6 separate regions of the Homo sapiens genome follow, and regions 1, 2, 3, 4 and 6 are each linked to region 5. The links come from fine-mapping of genetic effects on gene expression. A gene starts in region 5. Each other region holds a variant in brackets. All regions are shown on one strand. Distances are from middle to middle.

Region 1 (4,087 bases), 68 kb after region 5:
ATTTGACTATTTAAAGCAAAAATAACAACAGTGTACTGTGGAGTTTATAATATATGAAGCAATACTATGTATAACAAAAACAATACAAAGGCCAACAGGGGAGAAATGGGAGTATAATGTTGTAAGGTTCTGATTCTGTATGTGAAGTGGTATAATATCATCTGAAAGCAGACTGTGATAGGTTAGAGATGTGTATTATAAACTCCAAAACAACTGCTAAAATAATTCAACAAAGAATTATAGCTAATAAGCCAACAAAAGAGATAAAATGGAATCATAAAAAATATTAATCTAAAAAAGAAGCAGAACAAAAAAGAAACAAATAACAAATGGGGGAAACAGAAAATAAATAGCAACATGGTGGATTTAAACCCAACCATATCAATTATCACCTTAAATGTAAATGGTCTAAACACCCAAATTAAAGAGGCAGAAATTATCGGATTGGAACTTGCCGAGGTCATCTCCTAGACAGAGGTGGGGGTGGGCAGCCCTGGCAGCTGTGCTCTAGCATCTCATTTTGTTGCCTCTTAGACATGTGGTCCCTTCTCTGTGGGCCAAAATGGAAGTCAGGACGCTTTATGCCAGGAGTAGAGAGTGGAGACTTCCCAACATGTACTATGGAATGTCAATGCACAGCAGCACTGAATTAATCTCAGACAGCAGCTGCTAGCACCTCTGAATGAGTCTTCATTCACCACCACCTTCTCCCCGAGATCACTGGCTCTGATTCCGGAGTTCACCTGACTACCATAATCCTAGCAGCTGGGTAACCTCTGGGCGGCCCATCCCACCCTCAGGACAGTGATCTGCCAGCCAGCATTACAGACAGGATCTCCCTGTCAAGACAAATGCTTGGAAACCAGCCCTAAATGCCAAGCAACCAGATTGTTTTCCCCACTTGATGTCATGTGAGACTTTGTCCAATGTCTGCAGAGCTTCTCCCATGGCAGGATAAGCGGCCAGGCTGGACACACAATCTCAGAGGACCCAGACATCCATAGAGATATTTCGTTCATTCATTCATTTGTCCATAGAATGCTTATTGAGTGAGTACCTTCTGTGTGTCAGGCACTGTTTTAGACACTGAGAAAGCAGTGAAGACTGTGAAAAGGCTTGTGTCTCCCAGGGGCTTGCGGTCTAGTGAAGGGAGACAGACAGATATGCAATGAAATATGATGACTGGTAAAATAGCAATCCTGACAAGGTCTGATGGATGCACCCAACCAGGTTTGGAAGGATGAGCAAGAGTCTTCTCGGGGGACAAGGCAGGGAAGGCCACCACAGGCAAAGTTCCAACAGTTACAAGGTGGCAAAAGTGAGTAGAAGTGGGATGTGTTGGGAATGTCTGGGGCTCTGGTCTGCAAGGATAGTACACGTGAGGATGTAAGAGCCAGACAAGCCTGGAGAAATAGCATGTGCCAGATGATAAAGAATCTGTATGCCTGGCCAGGGAGTTTGGACTTGACTCCCTGGCCTGGAACAAGGTATCCTTAAAGGATTTTATGCAGGTGGATGGCATGAGGATATTGGAGCTTCAGAGAGGCTACTCTGGAGGCAGAGGAATGGGCATGTGGGGTCTGGGGGAAGCCGCTAGAGGAAGAGAAGTGAGAGACAGGGCTGGTAGGGAGAGGCTGGCCTAATGGGGGTCAGAGTTAGGTAAATATCTGTCTGGCTGACAAGGAGGAGGTGATGAAGAGGTGAAAGGGGCAGGGCCTGGAGACCTATCAGACATGGGGGAGGCGTGGAAGCTGGGGAGGTCTGTGCTAGAGCTGATCTAGAAGATGTTTCTGTGGGGGTATCACAGCCCAGGGTATCACCACAGACAAAGGGGAAGCCTGGGGGGGTTGGGCAGTGTTCTCTTCACTGCTGGCTCTGACAGTGATGAGGAAAGGTGAGCCCTGTTACCGACGACACTATGGGTAGCCTGGATTTCTTGCAATCCTATAGGACTGCCCTGTCAAGCTGATGGAGGAGGCCAGAGGGGGACTAGGGTAGACCGAGCACCAAATGTGGCCATCCTCACAATACACAAAGCTAAGAATCTCAGGAAGCAATGCCTGGGAGAGTAGTGGGTGTGATCTCTCCACTGCCTCCCTGCCCTTCCTAAGATCCAGCCACACTTGCCCGTCCCCA[A/G]TCACGCTGTGCCCGCTCTGCCTCCAAGCGTGTATATATGCGATTCCCTCTGCCTGAAACTCCCACTGCCTCCATCCTGCTCAATGCGGCTGACTTTTCCTTTAGGACTCAGCCTGGATTTCCCAGCCCTCAGGTGACTTAGGGTTCCTCTCTGCCACCCTCCCCTAGCTTCTTGTCTCATTTCTAATCACAGTGATATGGTGCCCTTTCTTCTTGTCACTGACCACTACTAGATGGTAAGTGCCTTGGAGGTTGAAATGGGTTGTATTATTTCTTAATTTTCAGGGTCAGCATGAGGCCTGAAAGAATGGACAGGCAATGTAGGGGTGGATAGAGGGAAGAAGGGAGGGATTGATGGAGGAGTGACTGGAGGAACCATAGATGGAAAGAAAGAAGGAAGGGACGGAGAAAAGAAGGAGGGAGGGAGAAATGGAAGGAAAGAAAGAAGACAGGGAGATATGGGTGGACAGGGGAATGGATGGATTTATGAGAGATTGATGGATGTATAGGAGGAATGAAGGATGGATGGATGGAGAGATTTACAGACACATGAGAGTATGAATTAGTGAAGGAATGAGTAAATGATTGATGGAGTAGTAGAATGAGCAAATAATGAGCAGGTGAATAAATAAATAAATGATCAAAAGAATGAATGAACAAGTGAATCAATGTTTGAGTGGATGAATGAATAAGTAAATAAGAAAATAAGTGACTGAGAGAATGGATGAATAAATAAGTCAGTAAACACTTTGCATAAAATAAAATAAAAAATAAATGGATTGGTGAATGAGCTGATAAACGAAAGTAGTTAGTAAAGAAATATCATTGGTCATCTGAGCCTCCCCACCCAGCAATATTTGTAGCCCTAATTTCTTCAGCCAGTTGTGGACGTGGCTGTATCCCCAGTGCTTATAACTGTATCTGGTGCATAGTAGGTATTCAATAAACATTTGATGAATAAATCAATGGATGAACGAGTGTCGGTAGATCCGTTGACCCAGTGCTGTGGCAAACACTGAGGTTGATATTAGGAGCCTGGTTTTTAATCCTAGCCCTTTGCTTTTCAATGATGTCACTTTGAGCTCAGCCCCTTTCTTCTCTGAGCCTGTTTCTCTATCTGTAAAATGGAAAAATTGCCTTTATTTGTCAAGGCTAAGGTAAAGATGTGATTGTTACCAGAAAGGGGTCCTGATCTAGACCTCAAGAGGGGGTTCTTGGACCTCGCACAGGAAAGAATTCAGAGGAAGTTCATAAAGTGGAAGCGAGTTTATTAGGAAAGTAAAGCACACACAGAGCAGTGGCGTGGGTTGCTCAACTGAGTATACTTACAGTTATTTCTTGATTACCTGCTGAACAAGGGGTGGATTATTCATGAGTGCTCCAGGAAAGGGGTGGGCAATTTCCAGAACTGAGGGTTCCTCCCTGCTTTAGACCATATAGGGTAACTTCCTGACATTACCATGACATTTGTAAATTGTCATGGGTGCTGGTGGGAGTGTCTTTTAGCATGTTAATGCATTATAATTAGCGCATAATGAGCAGTGAGGATGACCAGAGGTCACTTTCATCACCATCTTGGTTTCAGTGGGTTTTGGCTCTTTTTTTTTTGTTTTAACCACATCCCGTTTTATCAGCAGGGTCTTTGTGACCTGTATCTTGTGATACTAGTCCTGCCAACCTTCTATCTCATCCTGTGACTAAGATTGTCTGACCTCCTGGGAATGCAGCCCATTAGGTCTCAGCCTTATTTTACCCAGCCCCTATTCAAGATGGAGTCACTCCTGTTTCAATGTCCCTGACAGAATAATAAGAGCCACATGGAAAAAATAAGGGCTCGACAAGTATTCATTCACTCCAGTCCCCCCATTCTTTTCGTACTACCTGAAATCCCTCCTGGGTTTTTTTAAAATTATAAAGCCCATACTATGTCTCTTCTCTTACAGAAGCGCAC
Region 2 (4,087 bases), 92 kb before region 5:
TCCCCATCCCTTAAGTGGAGGCTGTGCATAGCGGCTATTCTGTGAGGCTATTCTCATTATTAGACTGGGGTTATTATTAGACTGGTTTGGGGGAGGAAAACCACAGAGGTACAGTGTCATTCTCAAAAAGTTATATCAAGAGAATATGCTATCAATATCAATATCACTTAATGTCAACCCTGATGGCCTAGTTAATTATTTGATCAGTCTTCTGTTGAAATTATTGTTGTTGTTAATTATTATTGTTGTTAATTATTTGATCAGTCTTCTGTTGATGAGCCTTGAGGCTTGAGGTAACGTCTGTCAGGTAATGGCAAAGGTAATGTTTATATCCAAAGGTAATGTTATCACCATAATGCTAACTATAACATTATAAATATATTTTTAAATGGCCACAATACCTCAGGGCCCTTGCATCATACTCTGCCGTGTGACTTTGCTGCTCCTCCCTGGGAGAAGTGATTTCTATTTCCCCACCTCTTGAATCTGGGCTGGCTTGTGACATGTTTGCACCAACAGAATGTAATGGATGTAAATTCACACCAGTTATACAGTCTCAGGAGGCACTGCATGTTATCAGATGTTGACGGACACATAGCCTGAACACCCCTCTAACCCTAGCTGATAGCCAGTCAACTACCAGACATGTGATTTAGACCATCCTAAATAAACCAGCCCCAGCTGACCCACCCTTTCTGATCCCAGACACAAGGAGCAAATGCAAAGTTAGCTGAGCTTGGCCCAGATCAGCAGTGCTACCCAGCTGACCCACATGAGCAATACCAAAAGCTTTCTATTTAAAGCCACTGAATTTCGGAGTGGTTTGTTATACCGCAATAGCTATGTGCCTCACTGGCACCTAGGCATAACAATGCATGTAGGTGCTTATTTGTTGTAACACACTGTGATTACAGAAGATTAGAAGCAGCCTCAAGGCTCATCAATAGAACACTGATCAAATAATTACAGGAGAGCCAAACAATGGAATATTATGCAGCTGTTCAAAAGAACGAGGCAGCCCTATGTGAATCAACATGGAACAAACTCCATGATGCATTTTTAAGCGAAGCAGCAAGAGGCAGAAGAGTATACAGAGCAAGCTACTATTGATCCTGTAAAATACTTGCATTTGCATGGACTGTCTCCGGGTGGGTACACAGAAACATGTAACAATGGCTGTCTCTAGGAAGGGGAACTGGGTGCCTGGGGAACAAGAGTGGAAGCGAGACTTCCTTTTCACGCTATCCTCTTTTTTATCTTTTGAATCGTGTAAATGTGTTATCCATTCAAAAATAAATAAAACCAGAATGTAAAAACTCCTATGCCTTTCAAATGCAGAGAGCCTTATTATTCTCTTTCCAAGACTCCCAAGATCCACCGGGACCAAAAAACAGCAGTCAGGGAACAATTCCGATTTTCCCTCCTCTCTCCCCCACAGCCCCCACCCGCGCAGAGCGAAGCTGGCTTCTCCGGTAAACCCCTGCTTGTGAGTTGCGCCCAGGCGACACTACCTCGCCTGCCACCGGAGGGCAGCGCGAGGCTTCCTTCCCGGGGAGGAACTGCGGCGAGACGGTGGTCGGCCCTGAATAGCAAGCTGGCTCCTAGATCAAAGGCTCTGGCATTCCGTTTTTGCGTGCATGTTTGTTTGTTTTCTTTCTTTCTTCTTCCTCTTCTTTATTTTTTTAAAGGTCTCGACCCAAGAACCCCATTCCAGGCAGTAGGTTCGCCAGCCATTGCTTGTGCGTCTTCGCGGAGAGAGAGGGGGGAGATGCCCCGGCGCTCCTTACCCGGCTGGATAAGACCCTTTGGGGAACTTGCTGCTTCGCAAGTCTTACTTGTGAGGACCCGGAGGGTTTGCCTTTGACCCCGCCTGTGACCTTAAGAAAACCCCTTTCTACCCTGCGCCTGTCCCACAGCTGGAAGTGATAATTTTAAGAATGAATTAAGCACTCGGTGTGTGACACTGCGGCACTAAGCACTTTCTGGACTGTGTTAGGCCCCATTTTACAGACGGGGAAGCTGAGGCCTCCAGAGGCGGAGTAACCTGCTCATGGTTACAAAGCTGGTCAGCGGCGGGCAGGATTTGAATCCAGGGTTCCCGGTTCCTAATCCTCTGCTTTTACCACTTAATTTATCCTGCCTCCAAGGGCTGCTGGGAAAAAGGCGGATTTCAAAGGAGAAGCAGCTAAGGAAAAGCTCTGGAAAGGGCCAACGGAGCGGATATTCCCGGAGCCCCTCTGCGAGCCACGCGCCCCTCTGGGAAGCCCGCTTCCCCCTGCAGACAGGCGCTGTGACACGCTTGCGCCCCGGTCGAACAGGCGAAGAGGCCGAGGCCCAGAGCGGCGCAGGGCGAGCCTGGAGGCTGCGCCCCAGACCTGGA[C/G]CAGCCACGGACGCCGCTCCCGCCGCTCCCTCCGCTCCGCTGCGCTCCGCACGCTGGCGCCGGCTCCCCGAGGCCCCGGGCGCCCCGGCCGCACGCCTGGGTAAAAGGTCCCGAGGAGTCCGCAGAAGCGCGCCCACGCCCGAGACGGCCGTTTCCGCCGGCCTGGGAAAGGGGCGGAGAAGGGGGTCGCCCGGGCCGCAGCGTGCCGGTCCCCGCCGGCCGAGCCGTGTTTGGGGCCAGTCCCCGCACCCCGCTTCTTCCCCACCTGGGGAGCGGGGCGCCGCGGTAGGGGCACTGGAGCGCACGATGCACCCCGCCAACGAGTCCTTTCTGCAGACGGGGTTCCTGTTTTCATGCAAATGCCTTTGTTAGCGCACCGGGAACCAGGGGGACGGAACTGCAGCTGACGCGGGCTGCGCGCCGCTTTTCCGCCTTCGCTTGATTCGGCCTCAACGACTTAAACGCGCCGGGAACAAAAACGCCGGCGCCGCGGAAACCCTCAGGAGCGGCACGAGAAGCGCGGCTCCGCTGGGGTCCGCGAGAAGCGGTGCGGGCGGCCGGGCTGGTGCCTGCAGGCCCTCTCACCGCATCACCAAGGGCAAGGAACCTCCAACTGTCCCTCAGTTTCTCTACCTGCACTGGGATGTCCTACATAAGGAGTCAGCTCAGTGCCCGCATCTTGCTGTAATTATTTTGTCCAAGCACTGTGGGAGGCAGCGTTGAGGAGGCTGTTGTGGGGAGTTTGCCTGTCAGAGAGAAGAGGGAAATAAACAAGAAACATACAGACAAAATAATTTCAAATAGCAACAAGTGTTAATATCGTAGCAAACACCAATGCAGCGCTTATGCCAGGCTCTGCTCTATGCTATATGCACATTAGGTCATGTAATCCTCACTCCCTTGTACAGATAGGAAAATGCTGGTTGAATAATCTATTGAAGGGAAATAGGAAGTTGAACAATATGTGGAGAAACAGGTTGCACGATAGGTGGAGAAACAACAGGTTGCACGATATGTGGGGAACCAGGTTGAACAATAGCCTCAAGTGCGCAGTAGGTAGGCTCGGCACTTGAGAATATTGGGCCCAGCCTGGGTTTCGACCCAGCCAGTCCAGCCCCAAGTGGAAGCTTTTGCACACTCCATTACACCAGTTTTGGCTGTACTAGGAAGGATGTAAAGTGGTGACACGCCCAAGAGAGAGCTGGGGCTAGACAGGAGCTGCTCCTAAAAGGATGTCAATGGACGTCTCTGTGCAAGAGAGTAAGCTGAGGCCTGCACAGTGAGAGGAACTAGCCATGCAAAGAGCTGGGCGTGTCCAGCAGAGAAAACAGCAAGGGCAAAGGCCTTGAGGTGGGAGAGTAGATGTGGGGTTTCATGAACATAAGGATGGAACTCAGTGAGCAGTAGTAAGGAGACTGGAGATGGTCAGCAGCTGGGGGTAGCAGGCTTTGCAGGTCTCGGCAAGGAGCTGGACTTTTATTCTAGGTGTGATGGGAAGTTGTGTTGTTATGGCCACTGAAGGAGTTGCGTGGATGGAGTTGGACCAGAGGGTGGGTGCCCTTCCTGCCTTGCCAGCCTTAGGTTCAAGGAGGAAGTTGATTGCTTAGGCCTTAAGCTTGCCCCTCCTCATCTGACCTCCTGGCTTCTAGGACATTCCTGAGGACGTACACCAAGTCTCCAACATTACCTGATGTCAGATCAGGTAAG
Region 3 (4,087 bases), 43 kb after region 5:
GCCTTGGCCCTGCCCTTGTGACCCATGGGGTCCCCCCGCAGCCCCGGACATGAGCTCGAGTTGTAATTAAGAAAAAACAATTTCCAGTCATGAGCGAGGGAGATCTTCTCCCCCATCATTTTACTTCTGGACTTCCTCCTGGAATCTTCTGGGGGAAAAAAATGATGGTGAGAAGAATGGGTCATGGAAACCTCTACGAAATTCACAGCAGAGACTTACTGGGCACCCACTGTGTGCCACGCACTGGACAGTGAGCCAGACAGTCACAGCCCAGCTGGCAGAGTGCCTGCGATTCCAGTGCCAGGTGCCAGCCCTGGCCAGGGAGGGAGTTGCACGCTGTCAACACGGATTTCCCAGACAGAAGCAAATGAGAGCACGCAGGGCTCAGGACAGAGGAGCTGTGTGCTAAGAGCACAGTCGTAGAGTCCAACACACTTTGGTTCTTTGCCAGCCGGACAACTTTGTCCACTTTATTGAACCTCCCTTGGTCTCAGTGTCTTCAGCCGTAAAGTGGAATAGATAATCCTTCCCAAGCAGGGTTGTGGTAAGAGTGGATGGGGTGATCTATGTGATTGTGTGCTGCTTGTAAGCCCTGAGAACTGAAATCAGCCATTACCGTGCACCAACTAGGAGGTGTGCCGGTTGGTGGTAGCTTTATTCTGTTCTATCACGCAGGGGCCAGTCACAGAGGGAGCAAAGTTTATCATTCATGATGGGCGCTTTTGAGGCGGCAGTGGCAGGTTGATAGGATTAGCACATGGGAGGTATCCAAGTTTGCTAAGTGGTTAATGATTGCGAACATTTATTGAAGACAGATGCTCAATAGGTACCAGGCTCTGTTCTAAACGCTTTACCTGGATAATCTCATTCCATCCTCACAGCAACCCTGGCAGTAGACACTATTATCATCCCCTCTTTACAGATGGAGAAACTGAGGCCCAGAGAGGTTAAGTGAATTGCTCAAAATCCCTGAGCTAGAACCAGGATTCAAACCCAGGCTTTCTGACTCCAGAACGTTTCCCGCTTCACTAACTGGCGATCTCGTTCTTATACTGCCCCTGTTCTCTGTCTCCCTGTCCCCAGCTTTGCCCTGAGTGAAGGTGAAATTATTGCCATCCACTCATATATTCATTCAATATGGATCAGACTTCTTATGTGCCAGCCTTGGTTTCTGAATCATAACAAATGCCCAGTGAATATTTGTGGAATAAACGCATACATTAATGAATGTCCCCACACGTACCACCATCAGCAGCACCTCCTCAGGCCCCCAAACAGACATGGTCCTGGGTAGCGGGCCCTGTGATGGAAAACAAACATGGGCTGAGGAAGCACAAAGAAGGAACATGGACCCTGCCAGGAGAGGGGAGAGCCAGGGAGGGTCTTAGTATGAGCCATGCTTCATCTGAAATTTACATGGTGGATTGGGATTTGTTACAAGGAGAAGCAGGACAGACACCCTCGAGGGATGAACATGAGAAATGGGTGAAGACTGCAGGTGGTTCAGGCTAGGAGGAGGCAGGAACGGGAGGAGGTGACACTGAGGCGGGGCTGTGAGGAGACTGCACTGTGCGGGTCAGAAAGACCCTTCAGGCAGGGTGAGGAGGAGGGCAGATGGGAAGGGGCAAGGCTGGAGGCAAGTAACGTTGGCAAGAGATGAGGGGAACATGACTTATGGCTGAGCCAGTGTGGGCCGAGAGGACACAGAAGCATCCAGACTTGGTATTCAGTTTGAGTGAGTGGGCCAGGGGCTATAGAATGACCTTCTCATGACTTTCTCTTTGGGTATCTTAAATCCAGGACACAAATGATATCACATATGCAGACCTGAACCTGCCCAAGGGGAAGAAGCCTGCTCCCCAGGCTGCGGAGCCCAACAACCACACGGAGTATGCCAGCATTCAGACCAGCCCGCAGCCCGCGTCGGAGGACACCCTCACCTATGCTGACCTGGACATGGTCCACCTCAACCGGACCCCCAAGCAGCCGGCCCCCAAGCCTGAGCCGTCCTTCTCAGAGTACGCCAGCGTCCAGGTCCCGAGGAAGTGAATGGGACCGTGGTTTGCTCTAGCACCCATCTCTACGCGCTTTCTTGTCCCACAGGGAGCCGCCGTGATGAGCACAGCCAACCCAGTTCCCGGAGGGCTGGGGCGGTGCAGGCTCTGGGACCCAGGGGCCAGGGTGGCTCTTCTCTCCCCACCCCTCCTTGGCTCTCCAGCACTTCCTGGGCAGCCACGGCCCCCTCCCCCCACATTGCCACATACCTGGAGGCTGACGTTGCCAAACCAGCCAGGGAACCAACCTGGGAAGTGGCCAGAACT[G/T]CCTGGGGTCCAAGAACTCTTGTGCCTCCGTCCATCACCATGTGGGTTTTGAAGACCCTCGACTGCCTCCCCGATGCTCCGAAGCCTGATCTTCCAGGGTGGGGAGGAGAAAATCCCACCTCCCCTGACCTCCACCACCTCCACCACCACCACCACCACCACCACCACCACTACCACCACCACCCAACTGGGGCTAGAGTGGGGAAGATTTCCCCTTTAGATCAAACTGCCCCTTCCATGGAAAAGCTGGAAAAAAACTCTGGAACCCATATCCAGGCTTGGTGAGGTTGCTGCCAACAGTCCTGGCCTCCCCCATCCCTAGGCTAAAGAGCCATGAGTCCTGGAGGAGGAGAGGACCCCTCCCAAAGGACTGGAGACAAAACCCTCTGCTTCCTTGGGTCCCTCCAAGACTCCCTGGGGCCCAACTGTGTTGCTCCACCCGGACCCATCTCTCCCTTCTAGACCTGAGCTTGCCCCTCCAGCTAGCACTAAGCAACATCTCGCTGTGGACGCCTGTAAATTACTGAGAAATGTGAAACGTGCAATCTTGAAACTGAGGTGTTAGAAAACTTGATCTGTGGTGTTTTGTTTTGTTTTTTTTCTTAAAACAACAGCAACGTGATCTTGGCTGTCTGTCATGTGTTGAAGTCCATGGTTGGGTCTTGTGAAGTCTGAGGTTTAACAGTTTGTTGTCCTGGAGGGATTTTCTTACAGCGAAGACTTGAGTTCCTCCAAGTCCCAGAACCCCAAGAATGGGCAAGAAGGATCAGGTCAGCCACTCCCTGGAGACACAGCCTTCTGGCTGGGACTGACTTGGCCATGTTCTCAGCTGAGCCACGCGGCTGGTAGTGCAGCCTTCTGTGACCCCGCTGTGGTAAGTCCAGCCTGCCCAGGGCTGCTGAGGGCTGCCTCTTGACAGTGCAGTCTTATCGAGACCCAATGCCTCAGTCTGCTCATCCGTAAAGTGGGGATAGTGAAGATGACACCCCTCCCCACCACCTCTCATAAGCACTTTAGGAACACACAGAGGGTAGGGATAGTGGCCCTGGCCGTCTATCCTACCCCTTTAGTGACCGCCCCCATCCCGGCTTTCTGAGCTGATCCTTGAAGAAGAAATCTTCCATTTCTGCTCTCAAACCCTACTGGGATCAAACTGGAATAAATTGAAGACAGCCAGGGGGATGGTGCAGCTGTGAAGCTCGGGCTGATTCCCCCTCTGTCCCAGAAGGTTGGCCAGAGGGTGTGACCCAGTTACCCTTTAACCCCCACCCTTCCAGTCGGGTGTGAGGGCCTGACCGGGCCCAGGGCAAGCAGATGTCGCAAGCCCTATTTATTCAGTCTTCACTATAACTCTTAGAGTTGAGACGCTAATGTTCATGACTCCTGGCCTTGGGATGCCCAAGGGATTTCTGGCTCAGGCTGTAAAAGTAGCTGAGCCATCCTGCCCATTCCTGGAGGTCCTACAGGTGAAACTGCAGGAGCTCAGCATAGACCCAGCTCTCTGGGGGATGGTCACCTGGTGATTTCAATGATGGCATCCAGGAATTAGCTGAGCCAACAGACCATGTGGACAGCTTTGGCCAGAGCTCCCGTGTGGCATCTGGGAGCCACAGTGACCCAGCCACCTGGCTCAGGCTAGTTCCAAATTCCAAAAGATTGGCTTGTAAACCTTCGTCTCCCTCTCTTTTACCCAGAGACAGCACATACGTGTGCACACGCATGCACACACACATTCAGTATTTTAAAAGAATGTTTTCTTGGTGCCA
Region 4 (4,087 bases), 82 kb before region 5:
GGATTTCCTGTAGCCCTCCCTCCCCACCATACCCCACCCACAACTTCTCTTTTCTCCTCCCCTCTGATTCGAGGAGAGAGCCATTCTGCTCTGCTTACTAGCTGCCTGTCTGCATCTGGGGACACTTACAAACCTTTGATGCCTGTTTACTCCCCTACTCGCCAAGATTTGGGTCCAGATGGCCTGGTGAGGTGGTGCTGGGCACTGATGGTTGCTAAATGCTCCCTGGGTGATCCTGGCACTTTCTAGAGTTGAGCAACTACCTTGTTACCCCAGACCCAGCCCTGACTCTGCCACACTCAGGGATCTCCTGTTAATAGGGTCCAGCCTCCTTAGAAGACAGTTTAACAACATATTTTGTTACCTGAGCCCATCTTTGGGGTCCACCATAGCTGCCTAAGTGACTTGAGGAGATATTTCTTCCAAACCCAGACAAAGAGCCTCATTCACCACCAGCACTCCTGGTGGATGACATCCTCCCTGTTACCTTATGCGACACGGGTTCCCTGTGACCATTTGGAAAGTGCAGAGAAGCACACAGGAGCTGGCCACAGCCCACTTCAAGCCCAGGAATTTGTGAACAGAAAGGAGCCATTGTCTCCAGTCACTTGAAGGGAACAGCTCAAAAACACATTCAAAGGGCCCTGATGATAATGAATATGCTAATATGATTTCCACTGGGCGCCTGTGCTACCTCCAAAAAACCCTTTCTGACCTTCCTCATGGATTCAAAGCTTTCATTGAAGTCGACAGGGGATTTTGGTTAAAATAACATGAAAGTTTTCATTTAAATGGACAAAGCTGGGAGTTGTGAATTAAGCATGAGTTTCACATTGGTCCTGACACCCCTGACCTTGATGGGGAAATGCATAGATTGTGACTGGACCTTCTGGACCTTCTAGCTATTGCCTTTGGGTGGGCAGAGCTAGCAAGCATTAAGGGTCCCTTTTGCATGACAAGTGAACTCTGGAGACCTAGGTTTAAATCCCAGCTCTGACACTTACTAGCTGGGTGACCTTGAGAAAGGCAAATCATTTCTCTGATTGAGCCTCAATTTCCCCATCTGTAAAATGGTTTGGATAATACTTCCCTTGCAGCATTGCTTCCAAGAGTGAATAAGAAGTCTGTATGTGGGAGGGGTTGGGGAAGTGGAAAACATCTTGGAGCTCCCCACCGTCTCACCCAGTCAGAGACCCAGCAAGGGTGTGAACACCTCCAGCCTCCCATATCCCAGACCTTCTTTCCTTCATTCAGCGTATATTTATAAAGCATTTCCTGGGTGCCAGGTACTGTTTTGGGGCTGGGGATTCAGCTGTGAACAGAACAGATGAACTCTGCCCTCAGTGGAGCTGCCATTGTAGTGGGAAGGACAGACATTAAACACATGAATAGATAAATAATAAGTAAGTGGGCTGGGCGTGGTGGCTCACGCCTGTAATCCTGACACTTCGGGAGGCCGAGGGGTGGGGGGGGGGGTGTTGGATCACCTGAGGTCAGGAGTTCGAGACCAGCCTAACCAACATGGTGAAACCCCATCTCTACTAAAAATACAAGGGCGTGGTGGCACATGCCTGTAATCCCAGCTACTCGGGAGGCTGAGGCATGATAATCACTTGAACCTGGGAGGCGGAGGTTGCAGTGAGCCGAGATCATGCCACTGCACTCCAGCCTGGGCAACAGAGCAAGACTTCGTCTCAAAAATAATAATAATAATATGTAAGTGGTAATAAGTTCTTTGGAGAAGAAAAACAAAGTCCTTAATGAAAAGAGCAGAGCTTTAGAATTAGACAGAGCTGAATTCAAATCTCAGCTTGCTCTTTGCTGGCTGTGTAATGCCTGGGAAAGAGATTTTATCTCCCTAACACTCTTCTGCACATTTTTTAATGAGACCCACTGATGAATCACCCACCCATTGAACAAATATTTATAGAACTCTGGGCCAGGCACGGTGGCTCATGCCTGTAATCCCAGCACTTCAGGAGGCCGATGCAGGCGGGTCACTGAGGTCAGGAGTTGGATACCAGCC[C/T]GGCCAATATGATGAAATCACATCTCTACTAAAAATACCCCCCCAAAAAAGAAAAAAAAATAGCTGGACATGGTGGCGTGCACTTGTAATCCCAGCTATTCCAGAGGCTGTGACAGGAGAATCGCTTGAACCCAGGAGACAGAGGTTATAGTGAGCCAAGATCGTGCCACTGCACTTCAGCCTGGGCAAGTGAGCCAGACTCCATCTCAAAAAAGAAAAAAGAACTCTGTCCTGTGTCAAGCATTGTTTTGAGTGCTGGGGAGGCCACAGTGAATGAAACAAAAATCCTTGCCCTTGGGAGCTTAAAATCTAAAAGGGAGAAATAGACAATTAACAAATATACGTATATCAGGTGATGAAAGAAAAAGCAAGGGAAGGAGGTCAAGAATGTGGAGGACATTATTTCAGGGAGTGGTGGTCAGGGAAGGCCTCTCTGGGGAGCTGACATTTAAGTGGAGCTTTGAAAGATGTAGGGGAGTTAGCCATGTGGGTGTCTGAAGGAAGAACCTTCCCAGTCGGAGGAGACATCAAGGGCAAAGGCCCTGAGGTAGGGCCATGCGTGGCTGTTGGGAGGATTAGGGAATTGGAGGCAATGTCTAAGACACACCCAGCACAGCCCCTGGCTCTGAGTGGGGGTTCAATCAATAGCAGTTATTATTTGTACTCATTTTATGAAAAATGCAAGAGAAGTCATTTTCCATTATTATAAAAGTTCTTGAAGGCTTTGTGGATTGATGACTTTATTCCCTTTTCTTCTTTTGTTTTTCTGAATCAGAACCAGCAAGTCCAACCCCCAAGCCCACCTGCCAGCCCGCCTCTGTGCCCCCAGTCCCAATCCGGCAGGAATGTTTGACATGCAGTGGTGCTGGAGGGAGGGAGTGTGTAATTAATGATGGTTATTAAATAATAATGCCAGCATCTTGAAGTTCTTTCCTCTCCACAGCCTCACAAATTAGACGCCTTCGAAATGTTGTGCCCGTCGCCAAGATGCACCTCCATCTGGGGTGGAAGCAACATCTGCTAAACAGCTGCATCTTGTTTAAGAGCTGGTACTTAATTCAATTATTCAGCTCTGATAGGGGCAGGCAGAGCTGAGCGGAAGGGGCAGGCCCAGTCATGGGCATATGCTGCTCCACGTCTTCCCAAGTTGACCCAAACTCCTCTCCCACAGCGTCCCCACTCGCATCTGTTGATTCAACCAACCTAGACATCTGTACATTTCCAGAACCGGCCATGCTCACTCATGCTGCCTCCTTGCTTTTTACTCAAGCTGTGTGCCCCTGCCAGGAACACTCTTCTGCTGCCTGTCCAACTCCCGTGTCCTTCGAAAGGCCCAACTCAAACATCAGTATCTCCTCCAGGACAGAGCATAGGGAATTACCTCCCATGAGCTCTCTCGGTGCTTCATGCATTCCTTAACTGGAGCATTCATAACATTACATTGCAATTTTGTGTACCCTGCTGTTTTGTAAGCCCCTTAGGCTGGGAACCATGTGTATTTCATTCTTGTTATCTCAGCATTGTACCTGACTCCCCATAGACACACCCAGCACAGCCCCTGGCTCTGAGTGTTTAGTTAATGGATGGATGGATGGGTGGGTGGGTGGATGGATGGATGGATGGATGGGTGGGTGGGTGGATGGGAGGGTGGATGGATGGATGGATGGATGGATGGATGGATGGATGGATGCATGCATGGATGGATGGGTGGGTGGATGAATGGGTGGATGGGTTGGTGGGTGGATGGATGGGTGGGTGGATGGATGGGTGGGTGGATGGATGGGTGGATGGATGAATGGATGGATGAAGAGATAGAAGAATGGAAGAAAGGAGGGAAGAACAAAGCGGTAGACAAACAGATGGACCCACTGCCACCATCTAAATCCAAACAACCATCATTTCTCACTGAAACACTGGGGTCTCTCACTGGTCTTTCAGTTTCTACTCTTGCCCCCAGTAGTCTCTTCTACTCAAAGCACTTAGTAATCTTTTGAATATGGATTTATATCATGTCACTCCCCTGTTAAAAACCTTCCAGTGGCTTCCATATTCCTAACCCTG
Region 5 (4,079 bases):
TACCTGTCTCCCCTAGTAGAATATAAATTCCTCATGGACAGGGACCTCGTGCTCTCCCACACCCAGAGAAATGAAAATTCCCTTGCACTTCAAATGCTGCCCAGAACCCTGTGGGTTCTCAAGGACTGTTGTCAAACACTTCACTTATTTATCAAATGCTTATGTTGCACTTGGTATGTGCTAGGCTCTTTTTAACATGTCTTACAAATATTAACTCATCAAATCCTCACAATTGAGACTCACGCTGGCCTCGTCTCAGATGAAGAAGCTGAGGCACAGAAGAGGTAAGGCACTTTCCAGTCCACCCAGCTCATAACAGTAGCCGGGGGATTTGAACCCACGGAGTTCAGCCCATGTTCTCAAGTGTGGCACCTTCCCTGCCCCCCTGCACAACAGCAGGGCCATGCCTTCACCAGGAGGCTCGGGGCAGGAGGGGAGGCAGTGGTGTTACTTTGCACAGGTCTTTAACCTGGGAATCAGGAATTCAAATCTTGTTTCTACCCCAAGCTTTGCTGTGTGGCCTTAAGCAAACCTATTCCCTCTCCGGGCCTCAACTTTCTGTCCATTTACAGGGTTGGGCCTTCTCTCACCTTGTGTCATTCCTGTCCTCTTAACCGCCACTGTGTGAACCAAAATTCTCTCCCATTAGCAGCGGGGTCTTGAACTTGTGTTCCTCCCACAGTGCGGAGCCTTCTGCCAGGTGACCACGACACTGGCACTCCCCATCACTGACCTGGCTACTACAGGAACGGCGTTCCCTCCGGGAAAACCGGGGTTCTGTCCTCTCCAACTCCAGGCCTCTGGCCCCGGCTCCCCTTCCCCTCATCTTCCTCAGGGCTTGTCCTTCTCCCGGAACCCAGGCCTTCAGGGCCCCGCTCTCCCACACACGCCCCGGCCTGGGCCTCCCACCCGCCCAGTCCGCCCTCCACCACCGAGACACCTGGCCAGGGGGCCTCCACCTCCCTGGGAAGGCCCCGACCCTTCCCCTCTGGTTGCGCGCCACAGCCCCCTTCTCGCTCCCTCTCCTCCCCGCGCCTCTTTTCCAGGCGGCACCGAAGTCCTTCCTACACACACGCTATTTTTGTACCATCATCTCTTCTTCCTCTCCCCTTCCCCCTGCGTTCACTTACTTCCTTCTTTTCCTTCACCTCGGCCCGGCTCTGAAAGGATCGGGCCCCTCCGGCCCGCACCCACCCCCAAGAGGGGCCTTCAGCTTTGGGGCTCAGAGGCACGACCTCCTGGGGAGGGTTAAAAGGCAGACGCCCCCCCGCCCCCCGCGCCCCCGCGCCCCGACTCCTTCGCCGCCTCCAGCCTCTCGCCAGTGGGAAGCGGGGAGCAGCCGCGCGGCCGGAGTCCGGAGGCGAGGGGAGGTCGGCCGCAACTTCCCCGGTCCACCTTAAGAGGACGATGTAGCCAGCTCGCAGCGCTGACCTTAGAAAAACAAGTTTGCGCAAAGTGGAGCGGGGACCCGGCCTCTGGGCAGCCCCGGCGGCGCTTCCAGTGCCTTCCAGCCCTCGCGGGCGGCGCAGGTCCGGGCCCGGCAGGGACGGGGAGGGGCAGAGCGGGACCGGTCGGGGCTGGGGACCAGCCGCGCGGGCTTCTGAACGGGCACGCTGTCGGAGCCGGAGGCTCGTCTAGTCCCGAGCCCCAGCGGGCCGCGGCGGCTCGCGGGGCCGCCTTCCCGGGACAGCAGCCGGGGCCCGGGCGCCGGCGCGGGGGAGGACGCTGCCCTCCCCGGCCGGGCGCGCAGCTCGCAGCCCTCGCTCCCTCCCCCGGGGCGCGCAGGCGGGCGCTCGCTCGCAGAGAAGGTGCCGGCGGGGCCGGAGCCCCGAAGCCTCCCCGGGCGGCGGGAAGACGGGAGGAGGGGAAAGGGAAGGAGGGAGGGGGTCGGGCTGCCGGGAGGGCGGGGGCAGCGGCCGGGACTGCGGGCCGGGAGCGAGCCCAGCCGCCCGCGCCGTGTGGAGCCCGGGCGGGGCAGGTGGGCAGCGGCGGGGGCGGCTCCGCGCGGCCGGGCTCGGCCGTGCTGCCCCTCGCCCCTGCTCGCGCGGTCCTCTCTCCCGCGCGGTCTGTCGGTCTGCGCGCCGCCTCGCTCCTCGCTCCTCGCTCTCCCCCTCTTTCTCCCCCTCTCGCCTCTCCGTGTCTCTGGCTCTCTGCCTGGCTCCCTTGGGTCTGTTTCTCTCTCCTGCCGCCTCTCTCTGGCCGCCCCTGGCTTTATTTCTCGCGCGCTTGGGGTCTCTCCCAGTCTCCGTCTCTCCATTTCTCCTGGGGGGCGGGGAGGGGGGGTCTCCAAAAACCGCGGCGGCGGCGGCGGCCGCTCCAGGCGCCCGTTCCGGAGTCGGGGGGAGGCCCAGCCGGGAGGGGGGAAGGGGGGGAGCCTTAGTCATTTCCCCGCTCCAGCCTGCTCCCGCCCGAGCGCGCACTCACGGCCGCTCTCCCTCCTCGCTCCGCAGCCGCGGCCCATGGAGCCCGCCGGCCCGGCCCCCGGCCGCCTCGGGCCGCTGCTCTGCCTGCTGCTCGCCGCGTCCTGCGCCTGGTCAGGTAAGCACCCCCCCGCTCCCCACCGCTGCACTCCCCAAACTGCGGGCTCAGGCCTCTCAGACTGGCACTGGGACCCCTTCGGCTAATGCCGAGCAGTAATAGGGGGAGAGACGCCTGTAACCAGGGTTATAGATGCAGAAACTGAGGCCCAGAGAGGGCCAGCGACATGCCCAAGGTCACACAGCCAAGGGTAGAACCCAAGTCTCTTCTATGAGAGTTTGTCTCTGTGGACTCTGACTCTGTGCACTGTGCTGGGCACTGAGACAAAAGAGCCGAGTTGCTTCACTCAGCCCCTGCCCGGTCCAATGGGGAAGGCTGACTGACAGTGGCTTTCAGAGCAGGGCCGTCCGGCTTCCCCAGAATCTGTCCCCATGGACATACGACTTTCCACATGTTTGACTTCAGGGTGTGAGGGGAGGAGGTGAGGGCAGAGGTCCTCCCGATGCTGCCTGGAATGGAACAGAGACAAGCTGTTGCAATTAGGGAAGAGTGAGCCCTCCCTCTGGTGCGCAGAGTAAACCGGTGTTAGTGTGTGCCTGGGAGAGAGGGAGCCGGGAGGCCGCGGTAACCCCAGAGCGAGCTGCTGCGAGCAACAGATCCTTATGTAAAAACACGGTGGATTGTCCCTGTGGTTGCCAAAGCCTCTCCCTGGTGGTCTTGCTCCTTGAGGCGCTCCCAGCTCCCCCTTCCTCCTGCCTTCCCCGAGCTTCCAGGCAGCTCCCTGCAGTTCAGGTGCTCCGCGGGGATGTTACCTGTGGCTCTGACCATGTCTTTCTGTTGGCCTACATCAAACACCTGGCTGTCGCCGGCAGGCGGGCTCTGAAGGCTACTGTGCATGTTCACCAAAGGGTGAGGTCACCATTCAGGAGTCTTGCTTCTTAAATGGGTTTTGCAAAACCATGGGTCTCCTGGGAGGGCACCGGGTGGGGGGCGGGGGGAGCAGAGAAATGGCATTAAGGGAGTTGGGAGGGAGAGAAAAATGGGGATCTTGTTTTTTGTCGTCTTGAAACTGTGTTGTAGGCAGTGGGGTCTCTCTGTACCTCCCACCCTTGAGGAGGGAGGTAAAGATGAGCTCAGTGTCCAACACCCCCTTTTGCGTTTGACTAGAGATGGTAACCATCTGATAGCAGGGAGAAAGGGAGAACTAGCAAAGAGTGGGTGGAAGGAGAAGTATGGGGGGTAGACAGCTGCTTCTCTCTGCCCTGCAGTTTCCCCTGAAACCCAGGAATTCACATAGGCATCCCCCCACCCCACCCCACCCTCCACCCCCAGTTCTTTTCAGTTATAGTTGCGTCCTTGCTGGGCTGAAGGGAGCACTGATACAGTTCACGTCTCTCCAGTGAGTGGCATCTCCTATCTGCTCCTTCCTGCCTGAGCTGGCCATTTGTACCCTGCAAAAGTCCGAGTTCCTGCCCTGCCATCCTTCCTGGCCTGGAAATGCACAAGTGTCACTCACAAGTGCTTAATTTTCCTGAAGCAGGGAATTGGGCCCGAGTTAATTTCTAAATGTCTATTCCAGACCCTTCTCCGACCAGGAGGCT
Region 6 (4,087 bases), 54 kb before region 5:
TGGTCCAGGCAGCTTGCCCAAACTCTCTGAGACCCAATCGCATCATCTTTCAAAAGGGCATCACAATCCTAGCTTGTGAGGACAGGGAGGAATAACGAGGAAAATGGCTGCGTGTGCTCAGACACCTTCATTCATCCAGCCAGACAATATTATTGAGCATCTACTATGTGCCATGTGCCTCCTCCGAGCTGAGAACAGGAAGCTAACAAGGACCTACCCTCAGGAAGCTCACAGTCTCCTTCGGAAGACAATAAATACAGGAACAAAGCAACAGCTAAGAGTGACTCGGAAGACAATAAATATAGGAACAAAGCAACAGCTAAGAGTGACTCGGAAGACAGTAAATACAGGAACAAAGCAACAGCGAAGAGTGACTCGGAAGACAGTAAATACAGGAACAAAGCAACAGCGAAGAGTGACTCGGAAGACAATAAATATAGGAACAAAGCAACAGCTAAGAGTGACTCGGAAGATAGTAAATACAGGAACAAAGCAACAGCGAAGAGTGACTCGGAAGACAATAAATATAGGAACAAAGCAACAGCTAAGAGTGACTCGGAAGACAATAAATATAGGAACAAAGCAACAGCTAAGAGTGACTCGGAAGACAATAAATATAGGAACAAAGCAACAGCTAAGAGTGACTCGGAAGACAATAAATACAGGAACAAAGCAACAGCTAAGAGTGACTCGGAAGACAATAAATATAGGAACAAAGCAACAGCTAAGAGTGACTCGGTGGAGGAACCGGTTAGGGTAGTCAGGGAACACTTCTCTGAGGAGGTGACATTCGCCTGAGACAGAAGGAATGTGATGGAACTGACCAGAAAGGGTAGAGAGAAGAGTGTCCCAGTTAGCGGGAACAGGAGGTGCAAAGGCGCTGAGGTCAGAGCAGGGCTCCATGTGGCCAAGAAGCCCCAAGGAGATCAGTGTGGCTGCAATGGAGGGAGGAGACAGGGGATGAGTTTGAGAGTAACTGGAGGCCGGAGCAGGCAGGGACTTGAAGACTGAGTGATGTACTGTGGGTTTCATTCTCCATAAAATGGGACCCACAAAAGTGTTTCTATCAGGGATCATCTGGTCAAAATCGCATTTTAAGTAGCTCACTTTGGCTGCTGGCAGGAAACTGCCTGGATGGGGCAAAACAGGACATCGGGAGCCTAGCATTGGGGGCTGTCACAGCATCCAGGGGAAGGGTGGCTGCAGGCTGGACCAGGGTGATGGCAATGGCCATGGATGGTCCTTGAAATTGTGCATTCAGCACATCTTTACTGAGCTCCTATTCTGTGCCAGCCATTGGGGATGCAGAAGCCAACAAGAGAGAAATTCCTGCCTTCACAGGGCATGCAATCTAGAGGAAAGAGAATGGTAACTGAATATAATATATGCCAGTGGTAAGTGACGACAAGTGCTGTGGAAAAAATCAAAGCAGGGAAGGGTGTGGAGATCTGCCAGGGAGGAGTGGGGCAATTTGTAGTTTTAAACAGGAGAGTCGGGAAAAGTCTCATTGAAAAGGCCACATTTTAGTGAAGATGTAAAGGAGGCATGAGATAGAATCTGGGACAGAGAGTTCCAGGCAGAGGAAACAGTGAGTGCAAAGGCCCGGAGGCAGGCCCACTCCTGGTTTGTTTGAAGAAAGCAAGGAGGTCCCTGTGGCTGAGCTGACTAAGCTGGTGGGGGCGGGACAGATCATGCAGGGAAGGAAGGGAAGGAGGAAGGGGCTGAATGGGCAGAAGAGACTGGGACCTGGATGCCTATAGGAGGGAGGGAAACCAGCGAGACAGGGCCTGGCCCCTTCTCCATCCTGCTCCCCCGACCCAAGGAAGCAGCATCTCCCATTCCTCCTTTCATCCCACAAAGCTTCATCAGCCAAAAAGTGAAAGTTTAAAAAGGGAGGAACTGATCCCAGGAGAGGCAGGGCCCTGAGATTTGCCTGAACCCAGGTCAGACCCCAGCCCGGGTGGGGTGTGACTTCCTGTGGCTCTGATGGAATTCTCACTGTCCTCCTCAGGATGCATTCCTGGGCCTGAGGCACAGAAAGAGGACACACAGCCAATAGCAGCCAGTTTCAGGGCTCCTAAGCCTGCTGGGAGACACCCCCAGCCTCAGGCAGTGCTGTCGGGGTGGGCTACCTAAGCTGCAGGTGAGAAGAATGGTGGCTAATTAGGGTGCTGCCTCCTTCTCACTCTCCAGGTCCCAGGGATACCCTGAGTTGGATTTCAGGCTCATTAATGTCTTGGCAGAGAGGCTCTGGCTGTGAGCTCTCTCCAGCTGCCCAGCCTTGCCTGGCAGGAGTAGGGAATAGAAGGGAGACTCACAGGGGAGTCATCTACCCCCAGA[G/T]TCAGTCCCAAGGCAGGCCCAGGGTTGAAGGACGTCCTAGAGGACGTCCTAGAGCCCAGTGACATTGGCTGAGACACTCTCCCTCCCTGAGCCCCTTTGTCCCTGTCTCTCCAAGGGGATCATAGGCCTTTTCCCACCTGACTTCCAGAGCTGGGATGAACCCAAATAAAGGATGAAAGTGAAAGTGCCCTGAATCATTAAAGAGACAGGCAGAACTCCCTGTGCCACCCTGGAGGGATCTGCAGGATGGGTTGTTACGTAAGACAAGGCGCCTTGCAACAACTGCTGCCTGGCTGGCCTCCCAGCTTCTGCCCTTCCGTGGTGGCTGTTCTCCCCTGGTAGCCCCTGGATTCTGTTACATAAAATACCAGGTCAAAGAATTCCCATGGGACCCAGCAATTCCACATCTGGCTCTATACCCAAAAGAACTGAAAGCAGCGTCTCAAATAAGTATCCGCACACCCATCTTCATAGCAGCATCATTCACAATAGCCGAAAGGAGGACGCAACCCAAGTGTCCACTGGCAGATGAATAAATGGATAAGCAAAGTGTGGTATATACATATAATGGAATATTATTCAGCCTTAAAAAGGAAAGAAATTTTGTCACACGGTACAGCATGGATGAAACTCAAGGATATTATGCTAAGGGAAATAAGCCAGACACAAAAAGATAAATACTGCATGATTCCACTTATATGATTCATCTTGAGTAGTCAAATCCATAGCAACGCAAAGTAGAATGGGGCTGGGGGACGGGGGAATTCGTGTTGAATGGGTGCAGTTTCGGTTTTGAAAGATAAAACAGCTCTGCATGCGGATGATGGTAACGATTGCACAGTGATATGAATGTGCTTAATGCCACTGAGCTGTACACTTAAAAATAGTTAAAATGGCCAGTTTTATGCTGTGTATATTCTACCACAATAAAAAAAATTGCACCAAAAAACCCCAATGAAACCAATCCTAGCTCAGTCCTCTCCTCTGCTCCATCTTCCTGAGGCTCTGGTTGTATGCCCCAACCTGCATTCCCCATGCCACCCCATATGTTCTGCACTGCGCCTCCCTGACCCATCTCCTGCCCCTCCCCTCGCTCACTTTGCTCCAGCCCTGCTGGCTTGTTCACTCGTTCTCCAACCCACTAATTTCATGCCATGCTTGGGGCCTTGGCACCCAATGTCCTCTCTACCAAGAATCTGTCCTGGATATCTGCAGGGCTTGTTCCTCCCCATCCTCCAAGCTCAAGTCAAATGTCTCCTCAGAGGAGACATTTCCTTGACCCCCTGGACTGAAAGCACCCCCCCACAACCCCACTCCTATCCTCCTCTATCCCTTTACCTAAATGTATGTCTTTCATAACATGTATTAATATCACTACCTGGAAGAATACTTTAGCTTTGTCTGCTGGCTACTCTGTTAGAGTGTCAGCTCTGGAGGGTAGGAATCTCACTTTTTCATGCCTCACAACAATGCCTGGCACATAGTAGGTGCTCAATGAATAGTTATCAAATAAATGGAGAATGATCTTATTGATGTATGATGCATACCTATGACACACATGTTATATCTGTGCAGATGTAAATATATGGGAAAGGCCTGGAAACATGTCCACCAACATACAGTGGTGAACCGGGGAGGAGGGTGGGCAAAGAGGATGGGGGAGTGGCTGTCAAGGGGCCCTTTCAGGGTTCACTGAGTTCACTCAGCTGCTGCATGCAACTCTTACCATGCAGATCATAGGTATGTG

Alleles and levels. Positions count from the first base shown, and alleles are read on the strand shown. Sizes are in standard deviations (SD) of each study's normalised expression. Not every link is listed here.
For the expression in tibial artery of the gene that starts at base 2,419 in region 5, allele C in region 4 goes with a higher level than allele T (small effect, 0.26 SD a copy in GTEx).

Evidence for each region.
Region 1: its variant is fine-mapped to the expression of SIRPA in whole blood (TOPMed, PIP above 0.99).
Region 2: its variant is fine-mapped to the expression of SIRPA in whole blood (TOPMed, PIP above 0.99).
Region 3: its variant is fine-mapped to the expression of SIRPA in whole blood (TOPMed, PIP above 0.99). The same link has a PIP of 0.9 or more in monocytes.
Region 4: its variant is fine-mapped to the expression of SIRPA in tibial artery (GTEx, PIP above 0.99).
Region 6: its variant is fine-mapped to the expression of SIRPA in whole blood (TOPMed, PIP above 0.99).

The regions. Positions count from the first base shown.
Region 1 is chr20:1,960,686-1,964,772 of GRCh38, forward strand. The region is part of intron 2 of PDYN-AS1 (PDYN antisense RNA 1); the gene reads left to right. Among named protein-coding and RNA genes, the nearest start is that of PDYN-AS1, 16 kb to the left of the region's middle. RefSeq lists an enhancer at 3,877-4,087. The variant A/G (reference allele first, on the strand shown) is at 2,137.
Region 2 is chr20:1,800,967-1,805,053 of GRCh38, forward strand. No RefSeq gene overlaps it. Among named protein-coding and RNA genes, the nearest start is that of SIRPA, 92 kb to the right of the region's middle. RefSeq lists a silencer at 2,406-2,655. The variant C/G (reference allele first, on the strand shown) is at 2,381.
Region 3 is chr20:1,935,520-1,939,606 of GRCh38, forward strand. It overlaps SIRPA (signal regulatory protein alpha), which reads left to right. Exons shown (of 8, transcript NM_001040023.2): 8 at 1,801-4,087. The coding sequence ends at 2,049. Among named protein-coding and RNA genes, the nearest start is that of PDYN-AS1, 9.6 kb to the right of the region's middle. RefSeq lists enhancers at 1,549-2,103, 2,104-2,656. The variant G/T (reference allele first, on the strand shown) is at 2,322.
Region 4 is chr20:1,811,294-1,815,380 of GRCh38, forward strand. No RefSeq gene overlaps it. Among named protein-coding and RNA genes, the nearest start is that of SIRPA, 82 kb to the right of the region's middle. The variant C/T (reference allele first, on the strand shown) is at 2,027.
Region 5 is chr20:1,892,989-1,897,067 of GRCh38, forward strand. SIRPA (signal regulatory protein alpha) reads left to right here and starts at 2,419. Exons shown (of 8, transcript NM_001040023.2): 1 at 2,419-2,538. The coding sequence starts at 2,460. LOC102724545 (a long non-coding RNA gene) reads right to left here and starts at 1,262. Exons shown (of 4, transcript NR_186374.1): 1 at 1,131-1,262. RefSeq lists silencers at 1,383-1,642, 1,653-1,772 and an enhancer at 3,064-3,579.
Region 6 is chr20:1,839,356-1,843,442 of GRCh38, forward strand. No RefSeq gene overlaps it. Among named protein-coding and RNA genes, the nearest start is that of SIRPA, 54 kb to the right of the region's middle. The variant G/T (reference allele first, on the strand shown) is at 2,341.